2 linked regions of the Homo sapiens genome follow. The protein of the gene in region 2 interacts with the protein of the main gene of each other region in a biochemical or structural test. Each region holds a gene or a part of one and is shown on either strand. Other genes may lie near its edges.

The links.
Region 1: the proteins of RIN3 (region 2) and RAB5B form a complex in vitro, tested with the Homo sapiens proteins (one study listed by BioGRID).

Annotation. Positions count from the first base shown.
Region 1 is NC_000012.12:55,977,078-55,984,118, forward strand, and holds part of RAB5B (ras-related protein Rab-5B), read left to right. Parts: intron 1-2,294; coding exon of another isoform or gene 2,295-2,397; intron 2,398-7,041. UniProt on the Homo sapiens protein: The small GTPases Rab are key regulators of intracellular membrane trafficking, from the formation of transport vesicles to their fusion with membranes.
Region 2 is NC_000014.9:92,516,781-92,523,780, forward strand, and holds part of RIN3 (ras and Rab interactor 3), read left to right. Parts: intron 1-7,000. UniProt on the Homo sapiens protein: Ras effector protein that functions as a guanine nucleotide exchange (GEF) for RAB5B and RAB31, by exchanging bound GDP for free GTP. Required for normal RAB31 function.

The sequences.
Region 1 (7,041 bases), on a different chromosome or scaffold from region 2:
GATTCTCCTGCCTCAGCCTCCAGAGTAGCTGGGATTACAGGCGTGCACCACCACGACCAGCTAATTTTTGTATTATTAGTAGAGACGGGATTTGACCATGTTGGCCAGGCTGGACTCTAACTCCTGACCTCAGGTGATCCACGTGCCTCAGCCTCCCAAAGCACTGGGATTACAGGAGTGAGCCACCGCGCCTGGCCGTGTGTGCGTGTGTGTGTGTGTGTTTTAATCCTATCTAATTTTTCCAACAGTTTTTTGCATCCTAAGAGAGTTTAGGAGTAGAATTATCAATAAGGAATTTCATACATAGACCTGGAGTTGCAAAAATATATTTGGAGAAGAGAGCTTTCCCATTGCCCTTCAAGTCATACCTCATATCTTTTAAAATTTTTTTCCTGGACAATCCCTACTGCATAACATACCTCATATCTTCTAACTCTTACTTTACCTGGGAGCAAATATTGCTTATTGGTATGAATTTTACTTCTGAGAAGGAGGCATAGGGTAGAAGAAGCAAGCGTATAGTTTGCTCCCTAATCCTAAAGCATTTCAGATTGGAAGGTAACCAAAGTGTGAGACAATGAACTTATAATAAGGAAATGCAGCAGCCCTCTTGGAGGAAGGATACCATAAAACCCTACATGGTATACTCCCACTTCCGTTTTGGGAAAGATTTAGCCATTGACTCAACAGTAACTGAACTGAATAAGGAGCTACCCAGGTGAACAAAGTATGTGTACATTTCTGGGCAAGGTTGTAGCTTCTGTTCAGGGACAGTGGGTACCTTTTCAGAGTGTCTCCTGGTTCTGTGGTGTTATGGCTCCTTTTTTTAAACTTGTGTTTCTCAAGTCAGGAATTAATAGATAGTGGCCCAAAGCTTTTGACCGTTCAACATCAACTGAAAATTCAGCGAACTTTGTTTTTAGCTATAGTTGCCTCAGTGTTTGGGTGGGAGGGCCACATATTGGGTGTGATTAGGCCATCTGAGGCATAGTAACGGGTGACAGGAAAAGCAGTTAGCCCATGCGAGTTGCAATAGTACCTTGTGGGCAAGATCCCAAGGGGGCCCTCCATCCAAGGGAGATCACAGAGGAGCCAGGGAGAGAATTGATTCTGAGGCCTATTAAAAATATTCCCAAATGGGGCCGTGTGCGGTGGCATGCGCCTGTAATCCCAGCACTTTGGGAGGCTGAGGCGGGTGGATCACGAGGTCAGGAGATTGAGACCATCCTGGCTAACACGGTGAAACCCCGTCTCTACTAAACAAAATACAAAAAATTAGCTGGGCGTGGTGGTGGGCGCCTGTAGTCCCCCAGCTTCTCGGGAGGCTGAAGCAGGAGAATGGCGTGAACCTGGGAGGCAGAGCTTGCAGTGAGCCGAGATCGCGTCACTGCACTCCAGCCTGGGCGACTGAGCAAGACTCCGTCTCAGGAAAAAAAAAAAAGAACCCAAATGGAATTGAGTAAGATCTGTCCAGATGGTACAGAAAGGGAGGAGTTGATTGGGGGAGAGAAGTAGAATTACTTAGCCTTAATTTAGGGAGCATTTAATGAGCACCTACTAGGGATCAGGCAGCATGCTGTGCTCTGAAGATTTTAAGATAAACTCCCACTTTTAAAGAAGTTCATAGTTTAGCAGAGCAGACAGACACAATTTATATACTGTGATAATGTGATACATACTATTATAGAAATACAGTCTTTTTTTTTTTTTTTTGAGACGGATTCTTGCTTTGCTGTCCAGGCTGGAGTACAGTGGTGCAATCTGTGCTCACTGCAACCTCCGCCTCCCGGGCTCAAGCAATTCTCATGTCTCAGCCTCCTGGGTAACTGGGATTACAAGCCTGTGCCAACATGCCCAGCTAATTTTTGTATTTTTAGTAGAGACGGGGTTTCACCATATTGGCCAGGCTGGTCTCGAACTCCTAACCTCCAGTGATCCATCTGCCTTGGCCTCTCAAAGTGCTGGGATTACAGGTGTGCGCCACCACACCTGGCCAGAAATACAGTCTTAATACTGTGGGACCCTACGGGCCTCTAGAGAATGATTAATTCTGTGGGGGAGAGGGTGATTATGTAATTTCACTGAAGTAACATTTGAGCTTGGTCTTATGAGATATATAGAATTTTGCTAGGCAGACAAGTAGGGACGGGCATTCCAATCTTACCTAGGTCAATAATAGGGAGTTTGTACTACCATACTGATAAGAGGTAAGTATGCTTTTTGCCTCTTGGAGAAATATAAGGGAAAGGGTGCGAGATGTGGAAGGAATCTCATTTAATCCAATGACTCATTAGGTAACACTGGATCAACAAAATGAAGAGCTGAGCCAAGTGGTAGAACTCTCATTTCAAGATTTTGGTGACTTGGGTTTAAACAGAGTTGGAGAGGGAGATGAAGGTATTTACTGGTTTCTGCTCTATCTTCCCTACTTAGTAAAACTCTCACATTAATCGCAGGGCCCACCAAATTCTGCAAAAGTTACCGCTTGTTTTCCTATTGCCTCTCATTGAATTGCTTCTATTTCAACTGTCCTGGCAGGGTTTGGTCATAGACCTTCTAGAAAAGAGTAGTGATGAATTAATTCTTCTGTCAGAAAGATATGGGACTGCATCCCAGTTGCCAAGGAAGGCCTGGGTCTTCTTAATTTGTTTTTAGTCCCAAAGCAAGTACTTACCTAAACTGAATAGAGGCAGGAACTCTATCCAGTCTAAGCTCTCGATCCTGTCCTGGTGTTCTCTTTAGAGTTCAGCATTTCCTGCTTCCTTAAGAAGTATAGTGGTATAAGAGGCAGGAGTACCTGACTAGGAGTCCTACATTTACTGCTTAGCAGTTGGCTGTATGGTAACACTTGACAAGTTGACTAATTTTATTTTATTTTTTATTTATTTATTTATTTTTTGTGCAAATGGTGGCCTTTAATACCAAGAAAGACCATGACAAGTGACAGAACAGGAGCAAATTCCCTAGTGTAGTGCCGAGCTAGCCCTTTGCAGGACCCTAAAACCTGATCTAGTAACAGAATAAATCAGTGTATTTACATTTATGTTTGCCCTGAAAACCCAGGTAAGGTCTGAAGCCTGAGGCATCTCTCCTTCCTTTCCTCCTCCCTCTCTTCCTACCTCCTTGCCTTCGTTCACTTCCTCAATTCATTCCTCTCCCTTCTCCCTTCCTCTCTTTTCCTTCTTTTCCTTTCTGCTTTTCCCTTTTCTCCTTTTTCTCCTCATTCTCTTTACCATCTACCTATGTGTCCCTCCAAGCCCCTCTGCTATTTCTCCCCTGCTCACTCCCTCTGCTGTTGTCTCCCTCAGGTTCAGCTTCCGGGGTGGGGAGGCAAGAAAGGGTCCTCAGCTCAGGGAGCACTTGTTGGTGTTCTTTATGTCACAAGTTTTCAGGTCAGTACTGGGAGGCTTGTTGCCGTTTCCTGATCTCCGGCCTCCTGACTTGAGCAAGATGTCCCGGGCCAGGGAACTAAAAGCCTCATCCACATTCATACTGGATTTAGCACTAGTTTCGAAAAATCGGATTCCATGCTCTCGAGCCAACTTATCGGCCTGCTCCTTCTGCACCTTCCTCTTGGCCTCCATGTCACATTTGTTCCCTAGCAAGAGGTGCTCCACCCCAGCTGAGGCATTCTCCATGATGCTTTTCATCCAGTTCTGAATATTCTCGAAAGATTTCTCATCCGTGATGTCGTATGCTAGGATAATGCCCATGGCTCCACGGTAGTAGGCAGTAGTTATTGTCTTGAACCGCTCTTGGCCAGCTGTGTCCCAGACTTGTAGTTTGATCTTCTTCCCCTCTATATCCACAGTGCGGATCTTGAAATCAATTCCGATGGTGGAGATGTAAGTGTTGTTGAAGTTGTCCTCTGCAAAGCGAATGATCAGACAAGTCTTGCCCACCCCCGAGTCCCCGATCAGCAGCAACTTGAAGAGGTGGTCGTAGGCTTTGGCCATGGCGGACACCGGGGGAGCCGGGGAAGGGATGGGGCTATTTATTTATTTTTGAGACGGAATCGCTCTGTTGTCCAGGCTGGAGTGCAGTCGTGTGATCTCGGCTCACTGCTACCTCTGCCTCCCAGGTTCAAGCAATTCTCGTGCCTCAGCCTCCTGAGTAGCTGGGATTACAGGCACGCACCACCACACCCAGCTAATTTTTGTATTTTTAGTAGAGACAGGTTTTCACCACGTTGGCCAGGCTGGTCTCAAACTCCTGACCTCAGGTGATCTGCCCATCTCGCCCTCCCAAAGTGCTAGGATTACAGGTGTAAGCCACCACGCCTAGCCCAAATTGACTAATTGTATGTGTCTCGGTTTCCTCACCTATAAAATATAGAGACTGGACTAAATGACCTCTAGACTGGCTCTGATCTGCCTGACTGACCTTAAGGCTGACAACTGGTACTGGGTTGGACTCCAGTGGCTATATATACCGAGAACTCTGTCTCTGTTGATAGGTGATAGACTTCTGGAGACTTCATATGTATTTGGTTTAGGGACTCAAAGCTAACAAGTGGAAGGGGGCTTGAGGAATGGAGTCTTACTCTAGCTGGGACTGCTAAGACACTTTTACTGTTATGCCTACTTTGCTGCACTGCTTGGGAGAGTTGCCCACATTAAAGAACATCCTCCATGGGTCTCCTGCATCTAGTGGGCTAACCCATGGTCAGGCCTCAATCCTCCCTAGTTAATGGGTCATTTTATAAGTCATTCTTGTAGAGCCGTACTTCTTTTTTTTTTTTTTTGATGGAGTCTTGCTCTGTCACCCAGGCTGGAGTGCAGTGGCAAAGTCTCGACCCACTGCAGCCTCTGCCTCCCAGGTTCAAGCAATTCTCCTGCTTCAGCCTCCCAAGTAGCTGAGATTACAGGTGTCAGCCACCACACCTGGCTAATTTTTGTGTTTTTAATAGAGACGGGGTTTCACCATGTTCGCCAGACTGGTGTTGAATTCCTGACCTTAGGTGATCCGCCCACCTCAGCCTCCCAAAGTGCTGGGATTTCAGGCATGAGTCACTGCACCCGGCAGAGCTGCACTTCTAAGGGAAGTTAAATCTGATTTCTTCTCTTCTGAGCTAAAAAGGTTGAAAGGAAGAGAAACCTGCCCCATCTCCCTTTTTTTTGTCTCGGGTTTGAAGGTAATAATCATCATACCACTTGACTGGTTTACCAAAAAAAAAAAAAAAAATTAGTATTTTTGTGGGAAAAAATGAGAATAGAAAATAAATAATTGAATCTTATATGTATTATTTCATTTCTGTACCACAGAATTTTTGAGAGTCTAGCTATTATATTTTTTAAATGATACCCTTATAAACATGATAAGATTAAAGATCAAAGCTTAGAGGTGGCTCAACAATTGCTGTGAACAGGGAGGAAGGCAGGACATATTCTTTCTTTTTCAGAGGTGGGATCTCACTATGTTGCCCAGGCTGGTCTCAAACTCCTGGGCTCAAGTGATCCTCCTGCCTTGGCCTCCCAAAATGCTGGTATTACAGGCGTGAACCATGATGTGCAGCCAGAACATACTCTTAAGGCTACATATTAGGGTACGAGGTAGTCTTTTCTAAGTCAGTAGTTACTGATCTCTGAGAATCCAAGGTTGCTTAGTAGCAAGAAAGCTTGCTGACCACATCTGGGCTCTGGCTTGACTTCCCATCTCTGAGAGTTAGTGACAGAGACTTTGCAACTCAAGCGTGTCTGCAATTGTTTCCTGTCTTTACACTCCCCCAGAGCTCAAGTGATATGTTTAGCCATGAGAATTCAGTCCATTCTAACTCCCACATTTTCCTTTATTGTAGAGTAGTAACATTGAGGCTTAATATTCTACCCCTTGGATCACATGCTTTGAAATACATAAAAATGTAAGGGAGTAAGTTGAAAAAACCAGTAACTTTTTCTATTGTTTCTTGAGAGTATAGCATATATATGTCACCTGAAGGAAACTTGATCAGCTTATCATCTGTCCTTTTTTTTTTATTATGGTGTCACCTGTCTTCTCTTTTATTTATTTTTTATTTTGAGAGACGGAGTCTTGCTCTGTTGCCCAGGCTGGAGTACAGTGGCATAATCTCAGCTCACTGCAACCTCCGCCCTCTGGGTTCAAGCGATTCTCCTGCCTCAGCTTCCCAAGTAGCTGGGACTACAGGCATGTGGCGCTACACCCAGCTAATTTTTGTATTTTTTAGTAGAGACGGGGTTTCACTATATGTTGGCCAGGCTGGTCTCAAACTCCTGACCTCTCAAACACCAGAGTGAGACTCTCTCTAAAAATGGAAAATAAATTTTAAAATGTTATAATTAAAGATACTCATTTAAATTGAATAAATTTAGCTTTATGAAAAATTTGCTGTATCATCTTTATTTTGATCCTTTCGTCATAGGCCATTGAAAACTTAATCATAAAATGGTACATGTATATCTGAATTTTTAAGACTGACTGACCAAGGGGACTACAGAATACCCAGTAGAATCAAAGTAATTGTCATGTTCCTCTGTATTAATCTAGTCTACTTTGGGACCTTGAGTTCTCACCTCTCATTCTTTTGCTAACTTCCTCTTTACCCTTTAGTTATGTCTCCTTTTTTTTTTTTTTTTTTTTCCAGAGATAGCGTCTTGTTCTGTCGCCCAGGCTGGAGTGCAGTGGTGTAATCAGCTCACTACAACCTTCAACTCCTGGGCTCCAGTGATTCTCCCACCACAGCCTCTGGAGTAGCTGGGATTACAGGCACATACCACCATGCCCAGCTAATTTTTTTAAATGTTTTCTAGAGACTCAGTCTCGCTATGTTGCCTAGGCTGGTCTCAAACTCCTCACCTCAAGCAAGGCTTCCCCTTTTATCTCCCAAACCCCTGGGATTACAGGCATGGGCCGCTCTGCCAGGCCTGTTTTTTCTCTTTTTCTTTCTCTGTACCACTTTCATATTGTGGCTTCTTCCCTGCCCCCGATCTCCCCCCTACCCACCCCAGGTGGAGTCTTGCTCTGTTACCCAGGCTGGAGTGTGGTGGCACGATCTCGGCTCACTGCAACCTCCGCCTCCCGGGT
Region 2 (7,000 bases):
GGTCCCTGATCTGTGATCTTCACTGAAGCTGCAAGTGTGAAAAGCTTGAAATGCCACAGGGCACCCGCATTTTAACCCAGGAGATACAGAAATCAAAACTGGAAACCTACCAGGAATTGATCTCAGCTGGAAGCAGAGAGAGGCATGATATTTGAAGGAGGACACCCAGACCCTTCACCATCCCCTTAGGCCTCCCTGGAGCTCCATTTTGGAGACAGGAGTCTGAGGTGGTCTGTGGTGCCTCCCAGTCCCTTGCCAGAGCAGAGACGGAAAGAATGGGTGACAGATGGCCACAAACTCTGTCTCTGTAACCCCCTGGAAGATTCCACCTGTCATGGCAAGACATGGCAAGCTGTGTCATCTAGGCAGTGATGAGTGAGCACCATTGGGTGGGCAGCTCGGAGGAGGGGAGTGCCTGAGCAAAGGTTCGGGAGGTGGGAAAGTGTGGTGGAGGGGCTTGTGGGGCAGGGAGTGCACCCTTCAAAACCCAGAGGTACATGACACACATTGCTTTACAAAGCGACTGTTATCAGATAACAGGGGTTGAGGAAACGGAAGACAAATTTTGTCTGGGGAGAGAATTACAGAAGAGGGGCAAAAGTATAAAGGGGGCTGCCCACAGAACCCCATCCTTGGGGCCTGGGTCACCTAGGGGATTGGGGGCATCTGTGTGTTCAGAAAGAGCCTTAACATGGGGTAAATGACACCCAAGGCCCCTTAACTTCCTGTTGGCCCCCAGCTATCTGATCCTATTAGGGAGTAACCTTTAGAAGAGAGTGGGGGGCCATGCGTTATCATCTTGTTATTGGGTAATTGATTGGTGCTGCTCTGATGGCCAACTCCAGAATGTCCTGTTGATACAACTATTGCCCCGAACCAGCATTTATTCTGAGAACCAGGAAGTCGAATTTCTCCTGCCCACCAGGAGTGTCTGAAACATGGATGTTTTCCCCCAAGATTGGAGCCAAAGATGAAAATCACAACTTTAATGACTTCCAAACTGGATCTCCCCTCCGTCCTACCCCACAGTGGGCCCTTCTGGTGGTTTGGTTGTTGCCAATCAAGCTAGAGGGACTCTCAGGCCAGGCAGGGAAAGTGGTGTGTCCCCCAACAGCTCCCTAATTGCCCTCAGGTGACATGCTGTCCTATTTAAAAGGTCCCTCAAGAAAGTCCTGCCCTCTGTACCCCAGCCCAGCCCTGCTGGAAGCCAGTGTACAGCTTCACATCTTCTGTCCTCTCCAACGTGCAGAGCTTGTCTGTGGTCTTGTACCTTTGCCCATGAGGTTCTTTCTGCCCTTTTTACAGGGCTCACCTCTTCCATGTAGCCTTCTATCCATGCCAGCTCACAGAGATTCCTCCTTTTTGAATATTCATAGCCTTTTTCACATGAACCGCTTGTTTGCCTAGCAATTTGAAAGAAGCCAAAACCTCTTTAATATCATGACTTCCTACTTCAGTTACAAACTTCCAAAGAAAGGGGTCAGGTCTTTTAGTTCCATATCCTTGTGTCCTACATGCACTTGGCACTCCATAAATGCTTGAGGCCAATGATACGCTGATTGAAGGCTGCACAGCCTTTTCTTTTGTGTCCCTGGAGCCCCTGAATTTCTGGAGGTGTTTACAAGGTGGCCTAGATCACAGGGCGGGGCTAAGTAGGGGGAGACCCAGGGCTTGGGGGGCTAGGAGCCCAACTCCATTCCGCAGCAGCTGGTGACCCCCACCACAAGGCTACCACACTCCTCTCCAAGTCTGGAAAGCAGAGGCCACCCAGGCAATTGAGTAGGGACCCTGCTTGGCCCCAACTCCCCTAATTTTATCCTCCCCAGCTGTGCTCCTGATACTTGTCAGGGAGAAAGGATGGGGGAAGGAGAGGCCAGCCCTGGATACTGTGTCTCAGCCGGAAGAATGGAGAATAGCTTGGTGTACAGACTTGGGGGAGCCCTGGGGCATCAGTGGGTCCCAAATGCGGGTCTCTGGACCACTGAGAAACTGGGAAAATAAGGGTGGCCTGTGTGTGTGTGTGTGTGTGTGTGTGTGTGTGTGTGTCAGCATCAGTGTCAGCCATGGCTGCCAACGTGTCTTTTCTTAGGCAGAACTGTCCTTTGCTGGTTTGGAAGAGGCGTGGGTGTTTGCATGTTGTAGGTCATCAGTAGGGCTAGAGAATCTGGGGTCCTGTCTCCTCTAGTATTTTAGGATTTTATTCTAGGAAGCTGCTCCCTTCCCTCTGGACCTCATTTTCCCATCTGAGAAAAGAGCTCCATGTTCTCAAGGTCCCTGCTCGCTCTGACAGTCGGCTCCCTGAGTTACCAGCTAGCAGGCAACGGAAGCTGGTGTCCTAGAGTAATAGCATTCAGGGGATCAAAGTGCCCATTGGAGCTGAAGTGGCCCATGGAACAGTCTAGAACATGCAGGCACTTTCACAAGAAACAAAGACCCATCCAGGAGACTTTTGGCTCATTACCCTGACCAAGCTACCTGGAAGGAAATGGTTTTTCTTTTTCTTTTTGTTATTGCTGTGGTTTTATTTTGAAAAACCTAGTCTTGAAAAAAGTACATTTGGTTTTGGGAGCCCACTTTGGGGCAGGACCCATGGCTCCTTGCCAAGTGGACAGTGAGCTGGGAAGGTTTCTCAGGCGGGGAGCCCTGGTGTGGCTGGAGTAGCCTCTCGAGGGTGGCTGGGCTGGTAAGGTGGAGCCTGCCTGGCCATCAGCTGTGGGAGCTGTGGAGGTGCTGAGGAGATCGCAGACAGCCGGGGATACGGGGCCTGGCTGTTTAGAGACCGTCTGTGAAGCCTGCCCCTGTCAGGGTTGGAGTCTGAGGGGCGGCCCTACCAACAGAGGATGAGACAGGTGTCCAGGCTGAGGGATGGCGCTCTCTGCCAGGCCTCGGTCTCCCTGCCCAGGGCTGCCCAGAGATAGCCAACGCGTCCCTGTGCAGGTGGGGGCGGCAGTGACGCTGTGTGCCTCCCTCCCCACGCACAGTGTAGTACAGCGAAGCCAGTCCGTCCCTCCTGCCAGCGTGGCCTTGATGGAGAAGAGAGGAGTGACGGGTACATGGGAGGCCTTCCCTCAGCCTGGCGTCCACAGGGCAGTGGGAAGGCATTACTATCTGTGTGGTGTCAGCGTTTATACAAGAGTCTGGAAGCCACCACTGTGTCCTCTCCTCTACTCTCCTGCCAGTAGGGCCTCTGTGCAGCCTTGGCATGTTTCCTCTCCACAGGGGTAGGGGTTGGAGGGACTGCCCCCAAAGCAGAAACAGTGCTGATAGTCAGAAGCTTTGAACATGGCTGCAGAACCCCCTGCCCCAATTTGACCTCAGTAATACCCAGGGGTGCCCCCACCTCAACCAGTACATGTTTAATGGAATGAACGAGCCTGCAATGAAATGTCGGTTCTCTTTTTAGCAGAAATGGCCTAGGCCGTGGTTGTGGTCAAGGCCTGTTGTCTGTAAGTGACGTGACGGCACACACTCAGGCCACATCCTATGGGGTAATGGTGCTTGCATCCCCACCTTCTGGAACTGAGAGAGCCCCAGAGCCTGGCTCTACACACAGGCCTGGAGCCATGGGGAAGCAAGGATTCCAGTAGAGGGGGGTGGGAGTGGGGCCTTTGAGCCCATCCTCGAGGGGCTGCCCTAGGGGGGCTCTCCTAGAGGATACTCCCCTGTGAAGGTGGCCTCCATTTTGCTACTGACTCTGGGACGTTTAGCAAAGCTGAGAACTTTTTATTCCCTAGTTAAGAGATGCGCCACCCTACCTCCCGACTGACATTTAACACGGGGTGTCAGGCACTGATGCGAAAGCCTGTTCTCTGAAAGATAAGCTGGAGAGAGGGGTGGACAGAGGGCACCCCAACAGTAGCAGAGAAGCCTTCCCCTCCTCCAAAGTTTCCCAGAGCTAAATTGTTCTGTGAGTCAGTAAGTGTGCTTCTTCACCCATCTTCACGGACTGAAGAAATAAAGGGCTTTGCATCTGAAATTCACAATCTGATGATCTCTGGCTACAGGGAACAAGCTGTCAAGAAAGAGTCACCGGGGACCTTTTCCCCTAACCTCCATGTTCCCAGCTTCCTTAATCTCAGTCAATGTCAGAGATTGATAATGTAAATTTCTCTAGGGATGTTGCAGTTCAAAGCAAGGACTTATCTCTCTACCGATGGCATCTGGTGACAGCATTTATTATCGTTGCTTCTTTCTGTTCTTGACATTTTTGACGGAGCATCCATCTAAACTATACTCAAGGACTCTTCTCGCAATGGATATCTTCTCATTTATCTTCACCCATCCTCCTAATCATCATCCAGACATCCACCTGTCCATTCTATTCACCATCCATCCATCTAGCCATCTACTTATCCACCCATCCATCCATACATCCACCCATCAACCCACCCTTCATCCATCCATCCACCTATCCACCCATCGACCTATCCACCCTCCCACGCTTCTATCCATCCATTTATCTATCCATCCATGCATCCATCCATCCATCCACTCACCTACCCTTCCATCCTTCCATCTATCAATCCATCTATTTACTGAGCACCTGAACACCTAGGAGTTTCCAGTTTATCTACTAAGGAAAATGATTTGATTTGGATGTTTGTCCCCTCCAAATCTCATGTTGAAATGTGATCCCCAGTGTTGGAGGTAGGGCCTGGTGGGAGGTGTTAGGGTCATGGGGGCAGATCCATCATGAATGACTTGGTGCCATCCTCACAGTAATGAGTGAGTTCTCAGTTCACATGAGATCTGGTTGTTTACAAGAGCCTGGCACCTCCCTGCTCTCTCCCTCTTGCTGCCTTTCTCGCCATGTGACATACCTGCTCCCCCTTCCCCTTCCACCATGATTGGAGGCTTCCTGAGCCTCACCAGGAGTAGATGCTGGCACCATACTTCTCATACAGCCTGCAGAACCATGAGCCAAAATAAACCTCTTTTCTTTGTAAATTACCCAGCCTCAGGTATTCCTTTATAGTGAGGCAAAATGGACCAACACAGAAAATAAGAGAAATATGTGCGTATTTAAAGCACAGGGTACTGTATAAAAAGCTGCCGAACTTCTGTTACAGTTGGCTGTGCAGAGTGAGTAGGGAGGACTCCTTGACAGAGCTGGCATGTGAATTGGATCTTGAAAGATACGTAGGATTTTAACCACTGAAATCAAGCATATGCAGAGAAGCGTATTGCAGATAGGAGAAACGCACCGAGTGGGAAAGGACAAGTTGTGTGTGGGAGCCCTAAGAATCTGGGGTGGGGGCAGAGAGAAGATTCCATGTGTGATGGGCCTGGAAAGGTGGTTGGGGCCCCCTTGGCTATGGGTGGGCAAGTTTGACTTTTACCATGGTGGTGAAGACCACAGTTCTGTTCTTCCGGGCAAGACACTGAAACAGAACCTGCCAGAGCACCTTCTTCCCCCTCCTCTGTTAGGTAAAAGTCAATCTCTATAGCCCACTGTTGTTGCCAGGGTTACCTGAGATGATGATGTTCTTGTCTCTTTGGGTTGTGAGACCGGTGGGGGGCTCTCACCTGTATGTATGTGGTGTGTGTGTGTGTGTGTGCATGTGCTATTGATTTTCCAAAAAATGTATTATAGACTTTAAAAGTTCATACACAGACACACCCAAAACAGGGAAATTTAAAGCATCAAACATTTTTATCACCCGGTGCAAGTACGTGTTACCTTGTATTCTTTTTTCACTGAGTGTTACCTCTGGTACACATTCCTGTGTGCTGTGTTGTGGACCTATGTTGCCTACCTGCCATCTTCGATGGTGTCATCATATTATGATCATTTTAATGGTCAGAGTTATTTCATGTGTCTATCTTGACTTCTTTCCAAGTCCCCTCTGTTTTAAATGAAACTCCTGAAAACTTCTGTGGATCTAGGGTTTAGGGACCATTTCCTTGAGATCTGTCACCATCCTGGAGCCTTTGAGTCCAAGAGTGAAGCAGAGCCTGCTGATTGGCCCCTGAATTTTTGCTGGGTGTAAGTTTTAGCTGAACATTTCCCAATTTTCTTGCAGCTAGGTGTGGCCATATGACTAAGTTCAGGACAGTGAGATATAAGTGGGGAGTATAATTTGCTTGGAGAACCCCTTAATGGGGGTGTCCTTCTCTCCTTTCCTCTCTCCTGTTGCCTGAAATACAGATGTGATGGCTGGAGTTGAAGTGGCCATCTTGGACTCTGAGACAAACTTAAGCATAGAAGCTATGCAGGATAGAACAACAATATATTATAGTAAGGGTCCCAAACATGTCAGACCATCATCCCAGCTACAGACTGCTTACCAGTTTTTTATGAGAGGAATACATACTATCTTGTTTGTTTGTTTTATTTTATTTTATTTTTGAGATGTAGTTTTGCTCTTGTCACCCAGGCTGGAGTGCAGTGGCGATCTTGGCTCACTGCAACCTCTGCCTCCTGGGTTCAAGCAATTCTCCTGCCTCAGCCTTCCGAGTAGCTGGGATTACAGGTGCCTGCCACCACTCTTGGCTAGTTTTTGTATTTTTAGTAGAGACGGGGGTTTCACCATGTTGGCCAGGCTGGTCTTGAACTCCTGTCCTCAGGTGATCCACCCATCCTGGCCTCCCAAAGTGCTGGGATTACAGGCGTGAGCCACCGTGCCTAGCCATACTATCTTGTTTTAATTTCTTATTTTAGATTTTCTATCACTTACAAGCTTAGTTCTAATGAACACAGAGAGCTTTCTATCTCTGTCACATAGCACCAGATTATATGCCCGAAGTACTCAGCTGCTTTGCAGGGCGACCTGCAAGTCCCCATTTCCTAGTGGAGGCAAGAAGGAGGAAGAGAGGGGAGAGAGAAGAGGCAGCTTTGCATCCACTAAGGCTCTTGTTTCAAGGACTAGATTGCAAACATTTTTTTTTCATATTAAGTGTTTATGAGTTTTAGATTTTGCCAGAAGCTTTGAACTGTTTATTCTGACTCTCAAATCCTTGTGCTTTGACAGGGCTAGGTTTGCTGCTCAAGGCAGCCATG